Linked DNA regions of Homo sapiens: region 1 is linked to region 2. The links come from fine-mapping of genetic effects on gene expression. A gene starts in region 2. The other region holds a variant in brackets. All regions are shown on one strand. Distances are between the middles of the regions.

Region 1 (8,315 bases), 87 kb after region 2:
GACTCACTATAGCTCCCCACTGCCTCAACAATCCCTCCCTCTCCTCACTCCCTCCACCCACCTCAGCCCTGGCACAGCTCACACCACCTCCTGTGTGGAAGACTCCAGCCCTCCCTGCCTCCAATCCAATCTCTTTTTTTTTTTTTTTTGAGACGGAACCTCGCTCTGTCACCCAGGCTGGAGTGCAGTGGCACAACCTCGGTTCACTGCAACCTCCGCCTCCCTGGTTCAAGCGATTCTCCTGCCTCAGCCTCCCGAGTAGCTGGGATTACAGTTGCCCACCACCATGCCTGGCTAATTTTTGTATTTTTAGTAGAGATGGGGTTTCACCATGTTGGCCAGGCTGGTCTCGAACTCCTGACCTCAGGTGATCCACACGCCTCAGCCTTTCAAAGTTCTGGGATTACAGGTGTGAACCACTGTGCCTGGCCTCAATCCAATCTCTATAGAGCACCTGGCATCATCCTTCTAAAAACATATCATATCAGGTCACATCACCTCTTCTGCTTCACCCTCCAAAAAGCCTCTTCCTCACACCCAGGATGAATCCAAGTGCCTCTAGGCCCCTGGGCTTAGCCCTGCCTTGCTCTCCCTCTCTTAGCAGGCACCTATCTCCAGCACTCTGCACCCTGCCGCACCAGCTTCCTTTCTGCTTTTTTATTATTTATTTAATTTTTTTTTTTAGAAAAGGGTCTCTCACTCTGTCACCCAGGCTGGAGTGCAGTGGTGCAATCACAGCTTACTCCTGCCTCAACCTTCCCAGAACCAAGCGATACTCCCACCTCACCCTCCCAAGCAGCTAGGACCACAGGCATGCGCCACTATGCCCAGCTAATTTTTTAAAAATTATTTGTAGAGATGGGGTCATGCTATGTTGCCCAGACTGGTCTCAAAACGTGGGCTCAAGTAATCTGCCTGCTTCAGCCTCCCAAAGTTCTGGGATTACAGGCATGAGTCACCGCACCCAACCCCCTTCCAGCCTCTTAAAAGCACCCTGCAGGCTGGGCGAGGTGGCTCATGCCTATAATCCCAGCACTTTGGGAGGGCGAGGCAGGCGGATCACCTGAGGTTGAGAGTTTGAGACCAGCCTGACCAACATGGAGAAACCCCATCTCTACTAAAAATACAAAATTAGCCGGGCGTGGTGGCGAATGCCTGTAATCCCAGCTACTTGGGAGGCTGAGGCAGGAGAATCGCTTGAACCTGGGAGGCAGAGGTTGCGCTGAGCCTAGATCGTGCCATTGCACTCCAGCCTGGGCAACAAGAGCGAAACTCTGTCTCAAAAAAAAAAAAAAAAAAAAAAAAGGACCCTGAAGTCTCTCCTGCTGCAGGCCCTAACACAAGCTGTTCCAGCCCTTCCCTGGGAAAGCCACCATGAGGCCCCACTGCTCAGGGCTGGCTGCCTGTTCCCTGCCTGCATCCCCAGCACTGGCCAATGAATGAGCAAATGGGCCAAAAGGACTGTGCCCCAGGAGGAGTGGGGCTGTGCAAGGGTCACAGGGCAGAGGTCACGGGTGCCACCCTTGCTCCCCACTCACCAGTGAGATAGGTGTTATGCGAGGAGTTGATGAAGTAGGCACTCAGTGGCTGGGTCATGTCCGTGCTCAGATCCAGGGCTTCCAGGGGCAGGATGCCATTCTCCTCGCCTCCCAGGTAGCGGCTAAAGCCCTCCATGGACATCTGGTCTGGGGTGGGAGAGGATCAGCAGGGTCAGCTGGGGTCCCACCTGCCCCCACCCACCTGCACCCCAGCCAGCTCACCTCGCTCCAGAAACTGCTGGTTGGGCTCATACTTTTCGATGAGCAGCCGGGCCTGGGAGGGCCGCAGGGGCGGGTACAGCACTTCGTTGAGTCTCGGGTCGCGTTGCTTCTGGTTGATGAAGTCCATGAGCTGCTCCAGCGTCAGGTATGGCTTGCCCTTGGCGCCTCTGGAGGGGACAGGAAGCTGGGTCAGGATGGAGCCTGGCAGGGCTCCCACCCCGTCGCCAAGCCCTTGCCCTGGGCAAGGGAGTCAGAAGGCCTGCCCCTGGATCTGGCACCCAGTGAGTGGGACTCTGGGTGAGTCATGGCCAACCTCTGGGCCTCAGTTTCCCCCTTTACTCTCCTGACTACTCAGGATTGTCAAGGCAGCAGACTAGTGGGCACCAGCAATGGCCAGGGCTTAGGAGCTGCCAAGTGGTCAGCCCACCACCCCTCGCTTCCAGACCTCACAACACACCTGAGGCTTGGACCCCATTGCAGAGTGGGCTGATTAAACCAACCCTGGCACAGGGTTAGCCCAGAGCTGCCTGTAACTGAGGGGCAGAAACGGCGGGTCTGAGTACAGGAACATCACCGACAGGTTCTCCCTGGGCACCCCTCCGCCCCCTGGCGCTCCAGGACCCGGCCCACCAGTTTCCCCTCTCCCCATTGAGCTAGAGGCACGCTAAGCAGAAGCTAAACACAGAGCACAGGGGTTGTGAGGCAGGCCGGGCCCACTCACATCTCCAGCAGGATCTTGTCAATGTCCGGCCGCAGACACAGCTTGTTCAGGAACCGCTCAAAGATTTCCAAGGAAAACTCATCAGGCCGGATGGACTCACTCTGGAGGTCGAGGAGTGTGGGGTGAGAAGCCAGGGGCGGGCAGCCCCGTAAGGGTGGGTGCCCACCGTGACACCCCACCCCGCCCCTGTCCCCACCCCACACACCCGGTTGAATTTGAGGCCACAGGATTCCAGCGCAGTCTCCACCCGCTTCTTGTCTGCTGAGAACATCTTCAGGATGCTGATGCGGGCAGGAGGGGTTCAGGGTCAGTGGAGGACAAAGGTCACCAAGGTCAGGGCAGGAGGAAGGTGCTGGGGGAAGGGGTGCTCACTTCTTGACGGGGATCCGACCATCCTGGTTCACCTGCAGCTTCAGCTTCGTGTATCTGGGAAGGCAGATGAAGAGGTCACACCCTGAAAACGGCCACGTGAACCCCCCGGCTCCCCCTCGGGTGGCCTGGGGCTCACGCTTTGCGCAGGAAGGTGTTCCGGGAGGCGTTCTGAGCCAGGATGTTCATAGCCAGCTTGAATAGCTCCTCAGACCAGACCTGGGGGGCCAGTATACACGGGGAGGCGGTGAGTGGGGGACACAGGGGCTGCCCAGCCACAACCCAGGTCCACAACTGCCTCTGGTACACAGTAGGTCACAGAGCAGCCTAGAACACAGCAGGTGTTCGGTAAGTGACGGCCGACTCACAGAATAAGACAGTGACTCCCCCTTCGTCCCCTTGGTGCCAGCCCACCTTGGCTGTGTCATCCTGCACGGCCATGAAGTTCAAGAACACTGTGTTCACTGGGTCTGGCCCAGACACCACCGTCATCAGCTTCTCCTCCAGCCGGGCATCGGGACCCCCAAAGCCCAGAACTTCCCGGATCTTGGGGTCCTGAGTAGGTGACAGCGAAGGGTGAAGAGGGGGCTCCCGCACAGCCTCGCTGTGGTCTTCACTCCCAGGCTCATCACTCACCTTGGGCAGGCGGGCGTACCGGCCTGTCCGTGTGTCCCTGATGGAACTGATGTCCAGTGTGTCCACCTCCTGGGGGGAACCAGATGCCAGGCTGAGTATGAGAGGCTGCAGGGCAATAGCCAGGAGCTTCCAAGCTCTCTACCCAGGCCAGGGAATGGCCAGCCCCTGGCTATAGCCCCAGCCTCAGCTCCTGCCCTGAGCACTTCCTGTCTGGGCAGCAGTGGGAGAGGTCAGCCTGCAGCCGGGCCCCACCCCCACGGGCAGGGCAGGGGTCTGGGACAGGGGTCCTTGGCCTGAGCGAGCTGCACCAGCGCCCACCCTCACCATGTTGGGGCCCGTCCAGTACAAGAAGAAGCCATTGGGGTCCACACGCAGGGTCACCAGGTTCCGACTGGAGGTCTCCTGAGGACAGCACAGGGCAGCAGGGGTCAGGAAGTGAGGGC[T/A]GTGGTGCAGGCCTGGCCCCTGGGGCCCTCCCATCATGCACCCCAGAGTTCCTGCCCATGAGCTAAGACGAAACCTCATCCAGTCCACAGGTCCTGTGTGGCTGCCTGTGGCCCTCAGAACAAAGCCAAGGTCCTAGGTGTGACATTTAGTGTCACACCTACCTCAAAGCCTCTTCCCAGCCTCACCTCCCTCTGGCCCTAGGATTCTACCTGACCTTTCCCAGGGCTTTGTCTCATGTTCCCTTTGCCAGGACACCCTGCCCTTCCTTCTCCACCCGTGAAATCTGACCCACCCCCTGGAAGAGGTCCCCAGCCCCCATCCTGGGCTCAGTTTCCCCAGAAGTGCTGAGAGCTCTGTGACAGTGGCAGCCCCCCAATCCACCCCACTGCAGAATGTTTAAGGCATGAAAGTGAGAAGTCTGACTCCCACTGCCCTTCTGCATCCCTTGGGACATCACGATAGCCCTGTGGTCTGCCTCAAAGCCCATTATCCACCTTACCACATCTGCCGGGGTCCTCACAGCCTCAAAGCTCATCCCCATCTCGTAGAAGAACAGTCCCCCTAGAAGGGGACTTGCCCTACTCTCAGGACTGGGCAGTGAGCTCTTCCTCCCTCAAACAGCCGTGCAGCTGGCAGGGGGCAGGGAAGTGCATGCCAGCCCCATTTTCTAAGAAGGGCCCGGTCCCTGGCACACTACCAGGGCCACCCTGTGTGACTCAGGACCAGCAGCCAGAGGGGCTGTCCTCCAGGGCTTAGACTCGGCCAGGGCCAGAGTGAACAAGTGGCTACAGGTAGAACCCTCCTATTCCAGGTTCTTCCAGACAGAAAAGGACCCCACCTCATGTTGGGTGCCACCCCCAAAATGCATCTCAGTGTCTGGTGGACAATACTATTATTATCAATACATCTCATATACGCACACCGCCCCTACTGCGCACCAGGTACAGTTCTATGCACCTAGCATCTTCGAGCACACAAAGGCCTCCTAACCAGCCTAAGAGGCATGTGCTGTTGTCACTCCCATTTTACAGATGAGGACACTGAGTTACAGGGACACTTCGTAGCCTGCCCGAGATCACTGGAGCCAGGACCTGCTTGCAGGCAGTGTGGTTGCAGCGTCCTGTGACCTGGGAAGCAGGGAGCGGAGACTTCTGCCAGGCTCCCGGCTCCTGGCCTCAGCCACACCCCATTGTGGGGCCTGGGATAACTCTCTGCTTTCCAGACCTCAGTTTCCTCTTCTGGAGAATGGGGATTGCACCAGCCCCACCCATGGCAGGCTTTGCTTACAAAAGATGGGCGTTCATCTGGGAACAGAAGGCCCCCAAAATTTGGGGATGCATGGGCCTCCCCACTTCAGTGTGCTGACACCCAGCCCCAGCACTTCTCCGGATTCCCAACCCTACCCTGGGCCTGAGGCCCCCGAATGGTGTGCAGAGCGGGGAGTCTATGGGTACTGCCCCTAGTGTTTCCCTCCCACCTCTCCCCAGGGGTCTGGACCTCAAAGGCAGCCCAGGTCCCCTGCTCTCCTGCCCCAAGCCTCCGTCAGCACCCCCCACCCCACCCCCAGGGCCCTCTCCCTGTTCCCACTTCCTTATTTGGGTTTATCACAGTGGAATGAAAAGAAGAAACTTTTCCCTTCAGGCCAGCCTGGGGGGAGGGGTCTCCCCCGGCCCCTGGGGCCCCCAGGCACCCCACCTCGCACACCTGCCGCTTCAGGCCACGCCCCCATCTCCTCCCCCCAGCTCCCACGCCTACCCCGGGGCCCCACCCAGCCGGAAAAGAGCCCAGAGTCTTCCAGGCCCGTGGCCTGACTGGGAAGGAGCTGCGAGGAAGCTCAGGCCGGCCGGGTGGAGGCCCTAGGGAAGGAAGGGCCCAGGGGGCAGAAGAGGATGCACCCAGGATGGGGATGGGCAGCCGAAGGTGGGGACACAGGCATTTGGGAAGCACCAGGGGCAGGACAGGGAAAGGGGGGCCAGGATGTATTGGGGTTCAAGGTCCCAAGCCTAAGGAGTGGGGAGCAAAGTTCCCAGGGGTGGAGGAACTTGGGGGGCAAAGTCTCCACTAGGGGGTGACTGGGTGCTCCCATCTGAACAGGGAGCTGGGCTGGGATCCAGAAGCAGGGCGAAGGGGTGCCAACCAGAACAGGGGGAAAAATGATGAATGGACGAGGACTGTTCAGGCAGGGCACCGGGGAGAGTAGGGGCGCCCTGGCACACACCCAGAATGAGGATGCCCCCAGCCAGCCTGGAAGTCAGGGTCCTGCAGCCGGGGAGTCTAGTGCTGGGCAGGGGTCTGGGCACCAGGCCAGGATCGGGGAACGAGAATTAGTCTGGCAGGGAGCGGTGGGAAGAACGAATGGAAAACGGGGGGACGGGGTTTATTGGGGTTCAAAGTCTCTGCGCCAAGGAGTGGAGGCAAATTTTCCAGAGCTGAGGGACTGGGAGTTGGGGGGACAAAGTCTTCATTACGGAGACGATCGGGGACTTAAGTTTCCGGGGCGCCGCCAGACTGGGATGAGGGTGGCGCCACGGGCAGGCGAGGCTGGGGTGGGGGTCCCCAGCGTCTGGTCGAGCTTGACTGAAAGAGTCCCGGGATTTGGGCGGAGCAGGGGCCCGCGCGCTTACCTCGTCCCATTTGATGAACTTACTCCCGCGCCGCAGGGTCTCCACCACGGTGGGCGGCTCCAACTGCAGCGCGTGGACGCCGGGCTGGGCGCCCGCCATGGCCCGGCCAGGGGCGGGTCGGGGACCCACGGAGCCCTGACGGGGACCGACGGCGCCGCTGCTCCCACCGCGCGGCCCGCTCCGGCCCCGCGGCGTCAGTGCCCGCCCGCCCGCCAGTCTGTCCCGGACCGACCAGAGCCTCGGCGGGGCCCGGGCGGGGCGGGGACGGGGCGGGGCCTCCCGGGCCCCGCCCCCTCCCACCGCGTCGGCTCCCCCTGGCGGCCGGGGCGGCGACTGCAGCCGGAGCGGGGATTGGGGCAGGGGCACGCGGACGGGTCGGGGGCTTTGCTGCGGGGCTCAGCAGAACCTGATTCTTCAGGCCTGTGGTGGAAGGAGGGCGCTGGGGGCCGAAGTGGCTGTTGGGGAGCAGCTGGAGGGACTGGGTGTAGAGGGCGCTGCTTAAGGCGGTCCGGGATCAGCCCACTGAGGTTTCCGAGCGACTAGGGCTGCAGTACCAGCGGAGGGCTAGACTTGGGCCGGGGGGTCGCTGCACAGCCCTGTCGCCCACCCTCTTCTGCCGCACTTAGCTGAATGCAGGAAAAGCTTCTTCCGCCCCCCTCTGCCCTGGCTTCGCCTCACCCACTCTTATGCCGCGCGGTCCCCCCTCCCTGGGAGCACTTAGCCGGCTAATGGACCTCCCGCCGGCAGGCACCCCTCCCCCGTCCCTAGCCCAGGGAGGCCGGGCGCCTGCCACCTCCTTTAAGGACCCAAGCATCCTGGTCTTCGAGAGTGAGCCCTAGAACAGCCCCCTTCTTGTTGCTGCAGACTCCCATGACTGGAACCTGACTGTGAGCCTCTTGGCTGGGAACCGCGGGGGGAACGCTGTTGTCTGCCCAGAGGGGTCAGAAGCTTTGTGGATGTCCCCAGACAGGAGGGTTGAGGAGGGGCTCTGCAGTGCCTGGCCCACAGCAGGTGCCCTGAAATCTGCGTTCCAGAGATGGGAGCGGGGAAGGCGCATGGGCAATGGGATGGGTGGGGGCTGCAGCCCCTCCCGCAGGGCTTAGCTGGTGGGGGGGGTTCCTGCCTGGGGGCCCCTGTGGGAGCCCCCCCAATACAGAGGCAGTAACAGCAGCAGGTTTAAAGTAGAACTCATCCAGAGGGGCCAGCCAAGTCACCTAGAAACCCAGAAAGAGATGCAGCTGGCTCTGGGGGAGGAGGGGTCAGCAAAGGAGGAGCTCCCCTGCAGGCCCCTTTGCCCCAGGCTCTGAGACCTCCACAAGGAGCCCTGCCTGGCCCTGGCCTTCCTCCACACCCCGCCAAGTTCTCCATCAACTCTAACCTGGCGGATCTCCTCGCTCTCAGCCCTGGCCCTGTGGGGTGTGATTATGATCTCCACTTGAGGCCCAGAGAGGGGAAGGGACTTGCCCAAGGTCACACAGCTTCTTAGGAGGATTTCAACCCTCCGACTTCCTGAGGCCCAGGAGCCTCTAGACCTCATTGGGAAAACAGAACCATGCAAGGTGGAGCTTGGCCTCTGCCCTCACAGGCTGGAGTTCAAATCCGGCTCTTGCTAGCAGCCTCTTGCTAGTGGCAGAACCTAGTCTCTCTAGGTGCCTCAGTCACCTTGTCCAGAACCTAAAGGTTGTTGTATACATAAGCAAATGGGTGGGAGATGCCAAATTGACATGAGTAGCTGGAAGCTGTGGGTATACCAGGGAGGGA
Region 2 (8,289 bases):
TCCTTGGAGAGGCGGGCAGCCTCCGTGTTTTGGGCCTCCAGCTTGCGGGCCTGGGCTTCCAGCTCATCTCCAAGGGCCTCAGCCTTTCTCCTCAACTGTGCCACCTCCTCCCTGAGGGCCTCCTGCTCTGCGACACCACTGGCCAGGCTCTCCCCTGGGATTGGGCCTTCCCAGACCTGGACCTCAAGAGCCCCTTCTGACTTCTGCTGTGGTTTTTGCCAGGCTGGGTCCCTGACCGTCCCTTCCAGCCTCTGGTCATGCTCTCTGGCCTCTGCTTGTCCCGTGGCCAGGTCCAGGCCCTGGTTTGGGCCCTCCTGCTCCTCCAGCTGCACAGAGCTGGGCTCCGAAGGCCCTGGCTTGTGCTCAGGGCCCTCCTGTCTCAACCCCCAGGCCTCAGGCACCAACTCGCCTTGGGGAGCCTCTCTTCCCTCTGTCTCTCCTCCCAGCAACTGCGGGGCCTGAATTTTGGTCCCTGGACCCTGAGGTGGGGCCACAGAGGCAGGGCTCTGGAGAGAGGATCTACGGCCAGCCTTCTCCGGGGACTCCTGTGTCTCCACAGGAGAGCCTGACTCTTGCGGGGACCAGTCTGAGGCCTGGGGGTCCATGGCAGCTGCCTGAAGGGGACTCTCTGCCTCCTGTGGGTCTGAATCAGGTGCCTGGGGACACTCAGCTGATGCCTCGAGCACTGAGTCTAATGCCGGGGGAGCCAAGTCCAAGGCCTGGGGGCCTCCATCCCTTGCCTTCTGAACCAAGCCCTGAGGGCTGTGGTCGAAGGCCACAGGAGTCTGGGGAGCCTCCTCCAGCACTGGAAGAACAGGGTCCTCTCTCGGTGCCTCCAGCAGGGGGTGCTGAGGGCATACGAGAGGGACAGTCAGGCCCAGGGAGGGACTAGGGGAAGGGCCGGCCAGGACCCTGGGGGAGGGGACTTACCTGGCCCCCTGGCTGCCCCTGAAGCACCTGAAGCAGCCCCCGAAGCTCCCGGTTCTCCCTCTCAAGGGTCCGAAGCCGCCCAGCCTCTGCCTCCCTCACCTCATCTTGCAGCGAGGGGGCCGCTCCTGCTAGGGGTGCTGAGGATGAGAGATGAGGTCAGGACCCCTCCTTTACTGCCTGGCTCCTCACATACACACCCCAGAGGCTTGGGAGAAGGGAGGGAGTCAGAGGCTCTCCCCAGTACACTGCTGGAAAGCATAGGAAGCCCCCACCCCAGCCCTTCCAGTGGGGTCCCTCACCCTCCCCAGGGGATCCTGGAGGTGGCTCCAAGCTCCGCTGAAGCTCCAGCTCCAGCTCCACATTCTCCTCAGCCAGCTGGTCCACCTGATGCCGCAGAGAGTCCAGCTCCTGGGGGTGAGGGAAGGGTCAGACAAGCCCTCCACACCATGGCCAGGCCGAGTGTGTAGGTCGGAGGGTCACTAGAGGTCACCAAGAGCAGAGGTTGCAAGAATCACTAGGGACCACTAGGGAATCAATGGGGTCATGGGGTGACGGGGCAACCCAAGTGGGATCACTCTGGCTACCTTACCGCATGGGCCTCGCCCAGCCGGGTTCGCAGCAGCAGGTTCTCGCGCTGGGTCTCGTGCAGCCGGGCGCAGCGCTCTCGGGCAGCCTCCAGCTGCTCTTCCAGCAGCGCCTTGGACGCCTCCAGCACCCCCGAGAGCACCCGCTCCTCCTGGTGGGAGAGCAGGGAGAACCGGTAGCCACGCAGCCCCCATGCACTCCAGCGCCTGAGGGTCCCAAACTCCTTCCCCTCAGCCTGTCACAGACCCTGCCTCCCTCCCCCACCCTGCACCCCATCAGTCTCTAGGCCCCGCCACTCCCTTCCATCTTCTTCCCACCAAGATCTCTTCAGGTACTTTCTCCCTCGCCCCTGGCCCCGCCCTTTGTGCAGGCCCCGCCCTTCTGTCCATGCCCCGCCCCTCCCCCCCGGGAACAGCCCTCCTTCCAAGGCTGCATCACTTACACAGCCCCCCCACTCCCCTACACCTGCCCCATCCTCTGGAGGCCCTTTCCCAGACGCCACCTCCCTGAATTTGTCCTCACCCATTTCTCCACCTGTGACTGTCCCCTCCAGAGAACCTGCCTCTCTGCCCTCGGGACCCAATCTCGCCCCTCCTCCTGGCCCGCCCCCTCGCGCACGCCCCGCCCCGCGGCTCCGTCTCCGCCTCACCTCCAGCTGACTCTTGTAGGCCTCAGCCGCCTGCAGCCGCTCGCGGCAGCGCCTCAGCTCCTCCTGCAGGCGGGGCAGGCGGCCGGCCCGCTCCCGCAGCGCCTCTGCCTCCTCGCGGTACAGCTCGGCCCGCTTGGCCTGTCCCGACAGCGCCTGGGCCTGGGCCAGACGGTGTGGAGCTGGGAACAGCCAGCCGCGGGCCAGAGGGATTAGGGACGGGAAGGAGCCGGGTTGGGAGGGAGGCAATGGGACCGGGTGCGGGGAGGTTAGGGAATGCCGCGGTGGCGGGGAGCATGTGAGCGCACCTCCTGGCGGAGCCTTCTTATTTCGGCCTCCAAACCCTGCACCTCGGCCTGGGAGTCTAGCAGCAGCTCGGCCTTCTCCTCCCTGGAGGGAAGGGGAGTCTAGGGAGGGTCTGGGGGCCCACAACCCCCAGCCCTTCCCAGGCCTGACCCCTCCCGTAGCCACCAGGGCTAGGGTCCCATCCAGGCTTAATCTGCCCCTCTCCACTCAGTCCCCTTCCCAGGCTGCGCACACTCACAGCTCCTGCCGCAGACGCCGCAGCTGAGCCTTGGCGTTGGCCAGCTGCAGGGCCAGATGGTGCGAGGGGCCCTCGGCGGGAGCCCTAGAGGGAGCCTCAGGCCTCAAGCAGAGGGGTTCTCGCTCCAGCAGCAGTTCAGCCAGCCGCTGTAGGTCAGGGGTCAAGGGTCAGGACTAACTTATCCAATGCCTCTGCACATCGACCCCCAACCACAACACCAGACATGGGGTTGTGGTCTGGGGTCTTGGGCCATCTGGTTGTGACATCACTGATGGCCCAAGACCTCAGACCACAACCCCATGCCTGGGCCCCAAACTTCCATCTCCCTTGCACAACCGGCTCCCTGATGGTCCTCCAGTTCCCCAACCTGAGTCCACGATGCCCCTGCTGCCCCTACCTGGGCCCCCAGGTCACGCTCCCGTGCCAGCTTCGACAGTGTCCCCATCAGGCTCCGGGACAGCATCTCCAGCTCGGCAGGTGCCAGCTCCCCAGGATCTGGCCCAGACAGTGCCAGCACCACGCCGGCCCCCGGCTGGGTCACCTGGGGCGCAGGAAGAGCAGTTCAGTGGAAGCCGCGGTGTGGCAAGGGCGTCCCAGGTGCCATACCAGTCTGGGCTGCCGAACCGTCTCAGTACCTCCTGGATGGCAGCGGCCAGCTCGCTCTGGACCTCGAGACTGAGGCCCTGGATGTGGCGGATGAAGAGTTCCCGGTGCTCACACTGAGGGGAGACAGGAAGGGGAGCTGGTGCAGGATCTCCCTCCTCTACCGCCAAAGCTCGACCCTAACCTTTCCTTCCCACCGCCGGCTCACCTGTACTGACGCTCCCAACAGTAGCCGAAGAACGCCTTCCAGCTGCTCCACCGCTTCTTCTGCAAGGCACATGCCACAAGGGGTTAACTGGGGCGGGGAAGGTAGAGTAGTGCGGGGGCAGAGGCAGGAGGGTGTGGGTGGGGAGAGCACCTGAGAGAGGGTCAAATCCCAATGTCTGGAGGTCTGGGGGTGGCGACAGGATCAGCAGCTGCAGCTCCTCCTGGAGGCAGAGAGGCAGACTATATGAGGCGCCTTCCCGAAGGGGCTCCTCTTCCCCTCCTGTCTCCGCCTTTCCCTCGAGACCCCTTACCTGGTAGAAGTCCCTCAGTCGGCCCCACAGGTGGTTCAGGTTCCACACTCGCCAGGCAGCAGGTCCGTCAAGGCCTCTGAGCATCCGAGGTCCCCCTCGGGAGCTGGGGGCACTATGAGCCGGAGGTGGGCTCGAGGACCCGCCTCCCGTCAACAGGCCTCGCCCACCGTCCCTCAGGCCCCGCCCACTGAGCATCAGGCTCCGCCCACCCGCTTCCCCTCCTCTCAGATCCTTCCCCGCCACCGCCCCGGCCCGATGCCCCTTACATGATGCCCAGCACCCGGAGGAGCAGGGCCCCATCGCTGAGGCGCAGGAATCTCTTCTCCAACCAAAGGGGCGGCTCTTCCTCCTCTTCCTCTTCTTCCCCCTCCGAGTCCTCCGCCTCCCCGACCAGCCCGGCCAGTCCCAGCGCCTGTGAGGAGCCCAGAGGGGTCAGCCGACCAGCAGAGTGAACCCTGAGCCCCTCCGACCTGCCCCAGTGAGCCCAAGCACCCCTTCTCACCCGTCCTCTGAGTGCCTCTGTCCCCTCTTCCCTCACCACAGCCCCCCACACCATATCTCCATCCCCCACATTTGAACCCAGCCCTCCCCTCCGGCCTGGTTCTGCCTCACCCTCCCCCGGCCAGCGCCAACACCAGCCCCTGGCTGGGGCTCACTTCCCCTCCCCAACCCGCTGCCACCTGCCCCCTCACCCAGGTAGCCAGACTCCCACTCAGGAAGTCTCTGAGCCTGGGCCCCTTGCCCCCCTCCATGCCCGGGTCGGGGTGCCCGTCTCACTGTGGCAGCTGCACCTGCCCTGAGAGGAAGAGGAAGTCCCCGAGTGGGGGATCCCGGGGCCAGCCACAGACACCCTGTGCAGCTTCCTCCTTCCGGGTGCAGGCGGGCCTGGGCAGTCTGAGTCCTACCTCAGCCCCCACCTCACCTCCCTGCATCCTCCTAGCATCTCTGCAGGGCTAGCCCAGAGGTTGGCGGCGGAAGGCCCACAGCTCCCCTGGCTCCATGGGCAATGACCGAACAGCCCTTCACCTCTCTGGGCCTTGTTTTCTCAAACTGAAACTGGAGAGGATGACCCCAGCCTGGGACCTTCGAGGGCCTCAAAAGGGCTCTGGGCCTTGCGTGGTGAGTTTGGTCACCCACACACCCATCTTCCCAAATGCCAGGCTTCACTCACTACAGCGTTCTTTCTTTTCCCTTCAGTATTTCTCAAAGTTACCCAAACCACATCCCCTGGGAAGCCTGGTTCAGATGCTCCTCCAAGAAGCCTCCCTTGAACCCCAGATAGAAGGGAGCATCATTCCTGTGACCTCACCCCACCCCATCCTCTATACACTCGAGACTGTTGTAGCCATACTAGGTGCTATGAAGGGGAGGGGATTTGACCTCGGCAGGATGATCAGGGAAGGCATCCTGGAGTACGCATGAGATCAGGGATGGCTGGGTTAACAGGGCAAAGTGGAAAGGAAGGGAGGGTATTCCAGGCAGCAGGAACAGAATGTGCAACTGCTCTGAGGCAGCTGGAAGCATGGTCAGCAAAAAGATTGGAAATTATGCATGTTTTATCTATTCCAAGATGCTTAATGTTCACGTTTCACTTTTTGTTTTGTTTTGTTTTTAAGAGACAGAGTCTGAATCTGTGACCTAGTCTGGAGTGCAGTTGCAAGATCACAACTCGCTGCAACTTCAACCTCCTGGGCTTAAGCAATTCTCCTACTTCAGCCTTCTGAGTAACTGGGACTACGGGTGTGTGCCACCACACCTGGCTAATTATTTTGCTTGTTTTTTGTACAGACAGAGTCTTGCTGTGTTGCCCGGGCTGGTCTCGAACTCCTGGGCTCAAGTGATCCTCCCGCCTTGGCCTCCTGAAGGGCTGAGATGACGGCATGAGCTGCCTCACGCAGCCCCCATTCTACACCTCTGAAGTGAGTTTACATGGTACAGTTGCTGTCTGGCTAGCTGCCGTCCCAACATCACTGTCAGGACCCACACCTGAAAAGCACCAGCATCAAATCCTTCAGAAGAGTGTCAGCAGCTTGGAAGAAATCCTAGAGGCAAGCAGAACCCTTTTTAGCCCTGGGACTCAAATGGTGGGAAACCCCAGGGGAAGGGAACCAGGCTTGTCAGTGACACTCCCTTTTTTTTTTTTTTTTTTTTTTTGGTGAGACGGAGTCTCGCTGTGTCTGTCGCCTAGGCTGGAGTGTAATGGTGCAATTTCGGGTCACTGCAACCTCCGTCTCCCGGGTTCAAGCAATTCTCCTGCCTCAGCCACCTGAGTAGCTGGGATTATAGGCACCTGCCACCACGCCCAGATGCTTTTTTGTGTTTTTAGTAGAGACAGGGTTTCACCATGTTGGCCAGGCTGGTCTCGAACTCCTGACCTCAGGCAATCCACCCACCTCGGCCTCTGAAAGTGCTGGGATTACAGGTGTGAGCCACCACGCCCGGCCTGTCAGTGACACTCCTAGAGCAGAGTGAAAACTCGGCTCCACTTCATCTGCACAATTGTAAAGCTGGCTTAAGAGCGCCTGGCTGTTTTATGGAATGTTTGGAGCAGTACTGCTCTCCGTAGAACTCTCAAGGACTCAGAGAAGGAGGTGGCAGGCAGACACAGACATCACGACTCTCAGACCAAAAATGATTCAAACAAGTTGGACTCTAAATGTGAAGGAGTTTTCTGAACATGGTAACCAATTTATTTTGCTTCTATTATCCTTTTTATGTGTGCATGAGAATTATATATGATAAGAATCTACATTTAAGTGAAACAGAGCTCTTTCGAGAAATACAAAAGAAAAATTCTAGTGATGAAAGAACCTTGGGACATCGTTAACTGGCAGCATTCTCTTTTCTTAGTGACATTTTTATAATCGATGACATCTTAGTTTTTTTTTGTTTTTTGTTTTGAGACAGGATCTCTGTCACCCAGGCTGGAGTGCAGTGATGCAATCACAACACACTGTAGCCTCAACTTCCCTGGCTCAAGGGATCCTCCCACCTCAGCCTCCTCAGTATCTGGGACCACAGACATCCACCATCCACCCAACTAATTTTTGTATTTTTTGTAAAGATGGGGTTTCACCATGTTGCCCAGGCTGGTCTTGAACTCCTGATCTCAAGCAATCCGCTTGCCTTGACCTCCCAAAGTGCTGGGATTACAGGCGTGCACCACTACATCTGGCCAACATCTTAGATTTGATGAAATATGGCGTAATAATGACATCATAGCAAACACGGGCTTCCCTTGAGCTAGGCATGGTTGTAAGTGCTTTACACTTACTAACGTGTTGGCTCTGGACTAGTCTGTGAAATAAGGACTATGGATTATCTCCATTTTATAGAGGAGGGAACAGAGAGGTTAAGTAATTTGCCTAAGGTCACACAGCTTTTAAGTGGCAGAGCCAACTAAAAGAAGGCAGTGGGGCAAGAGTGCAAGGAGCAAGGGGCACCCATAGTCAAGGTGAGCTGGGCTTGACCAGGCCACAGGAAGCCATGCAGGATTGGTAGCAGAGGAGCACAGCCAGCTGTTCAGCCCTTTTGAAATACCTCTGGAAATGGGAGTGATCCTCTCATTGTTGCCAGAATTCCAGGCCTTGATGCCCAGCACAAGCCTTCATTAAATGTCCCTGGGGTGATTATTATTATTATTATTATTATTTTTGAGACAGAGTCTCGCCCTATCACCTACGCTGGAGTGTGGTGGAGCAATCTCGGCTCACTGCAGCCTCTATCTCCTGGGTTCAAGCGGTTCTTCTGCCTCAGCTCCCTACAGAGCTGGGATTACAGGCATGCGCTGCCATGCCTGACTAATTTTTCTATTTTTTTTAGTAGAGATGGGGTTTCACCATGTTGGCCAGGCTGGTCTCAAACTCCCGACCTTAGGTGATCTGCCCACCTCAGCCTCCCAAAGTGCTGGGATTACAGGTGTGAGCCACCACACCCAACCTGATTATTATCTTTAGTATTAATAATATCAAGGATCAAGGCCGGGCACGGTGGCTCACGCCCGTAATCCCAGCACTTTGGGAGGCTGAGGCGGGCGGATCACCTGAGGTCCGGAGTTCGAGACCAGCCTGACCAACATGGAGAAACCCCATCTCTACTAAAAATACAAAATTAGCCAGCCACGGTGGCTCACACCTGTCATCCCAGCTACTCGGGAGGCTGAGGCAGGAGAATCGCTTGAACCCAGGAGGCGGAGGTTGCGGTGAGCCGAAATCGCACCACTGCAATCCAGCCTGGACAACAAAAGGGAAACTCCATCTCAAAAAAAAAAAGAAAAGAGAGAAAGAGATCATGTCCTTCGTGGGACATGGATGGAGCTGGAGGCCATTATTCTTAGCAAACTAATGCAGGAACAGGAAACCAAACACCGCATGTTGTCCCTCATAAGTGGGAGTTAAATGATGAGAACACACGGACACAAAGAGGGGAACAACAGACACTGGGGCCTACTTGAGGGTGGAGGG

The links.
Region 1: its variant is fine-mapped to the expression of CCDC88B in whole blood (TOPMed, PIP 0.95).

What each region holds. Positions count from the first base shown.
Region 1 is chr11:64,249,988-64,258,302 of GRCh38, reverse strand. PLCB3 (phospholipase C beta 3) reads right to left here and starts at 6,773. Exons shown (of 31, transcript NM_000932.5): 1 at 6,555-6,773; 2 at 3,811-3,888; 3 at 3,487-3,555; 4 at 3,265-3,405; 5 at 2,990-3,069; 6 at 2,854-2,907; 7 at 2,687-2,762; 8 at 2,482-2,582; 9 at 1,761-1,927; 10 at 1,539-1,685. The coding sequence starts at 6,653. RefSeq lists silencers at 5,791-6,004, 6,492-6,961 and enhancers at 5,394-6,040, 6,041-6,686, 7,981-8,315. The variant T/A (reference allele first, on the strand shown) is at 3,930.
Region 2 is chr11:64,336,556-64,344,844 of GRCh38, reverse strand. It overlaps CCDC88B (coiled-coil domain containing 88B), which reads right to left and starts at 4,641. Exons shown (of 27, transcript NM_032251.6): 1 at 4,519-4,641; 2 at 4,093-4,238; 3 at 3,827-3,938; 4 at 3,667-3,736; 5 at 3,517-3,575; 6 at 3,341-3,424; 7 at 3,103-3,246; 8 at 2,706-2,851; 9 at 2,470-2,551; 10 at 2,165-2,323; 11 at 1,520-1,666; 12 at 1,230-1,338; 13 at 931-1,067; 14 at 1-848. The coding sequence starts at 4,578. MIR7155 (microRNA 7155) reads left to right here and starts at 2,941; the gene lies at 2,941-2,996. It overlaps LOC102723878 (a long non-coding RNA gene), which reads left to right and starts at 4,053. Exons shown (of 4, transcript NR_188518.1): 1 at 4,053-4,304; 2 at 4,767-4,945. RefSeq lists silencers at 1,794-2,088, 3,953-4,002, 4,023-4,102.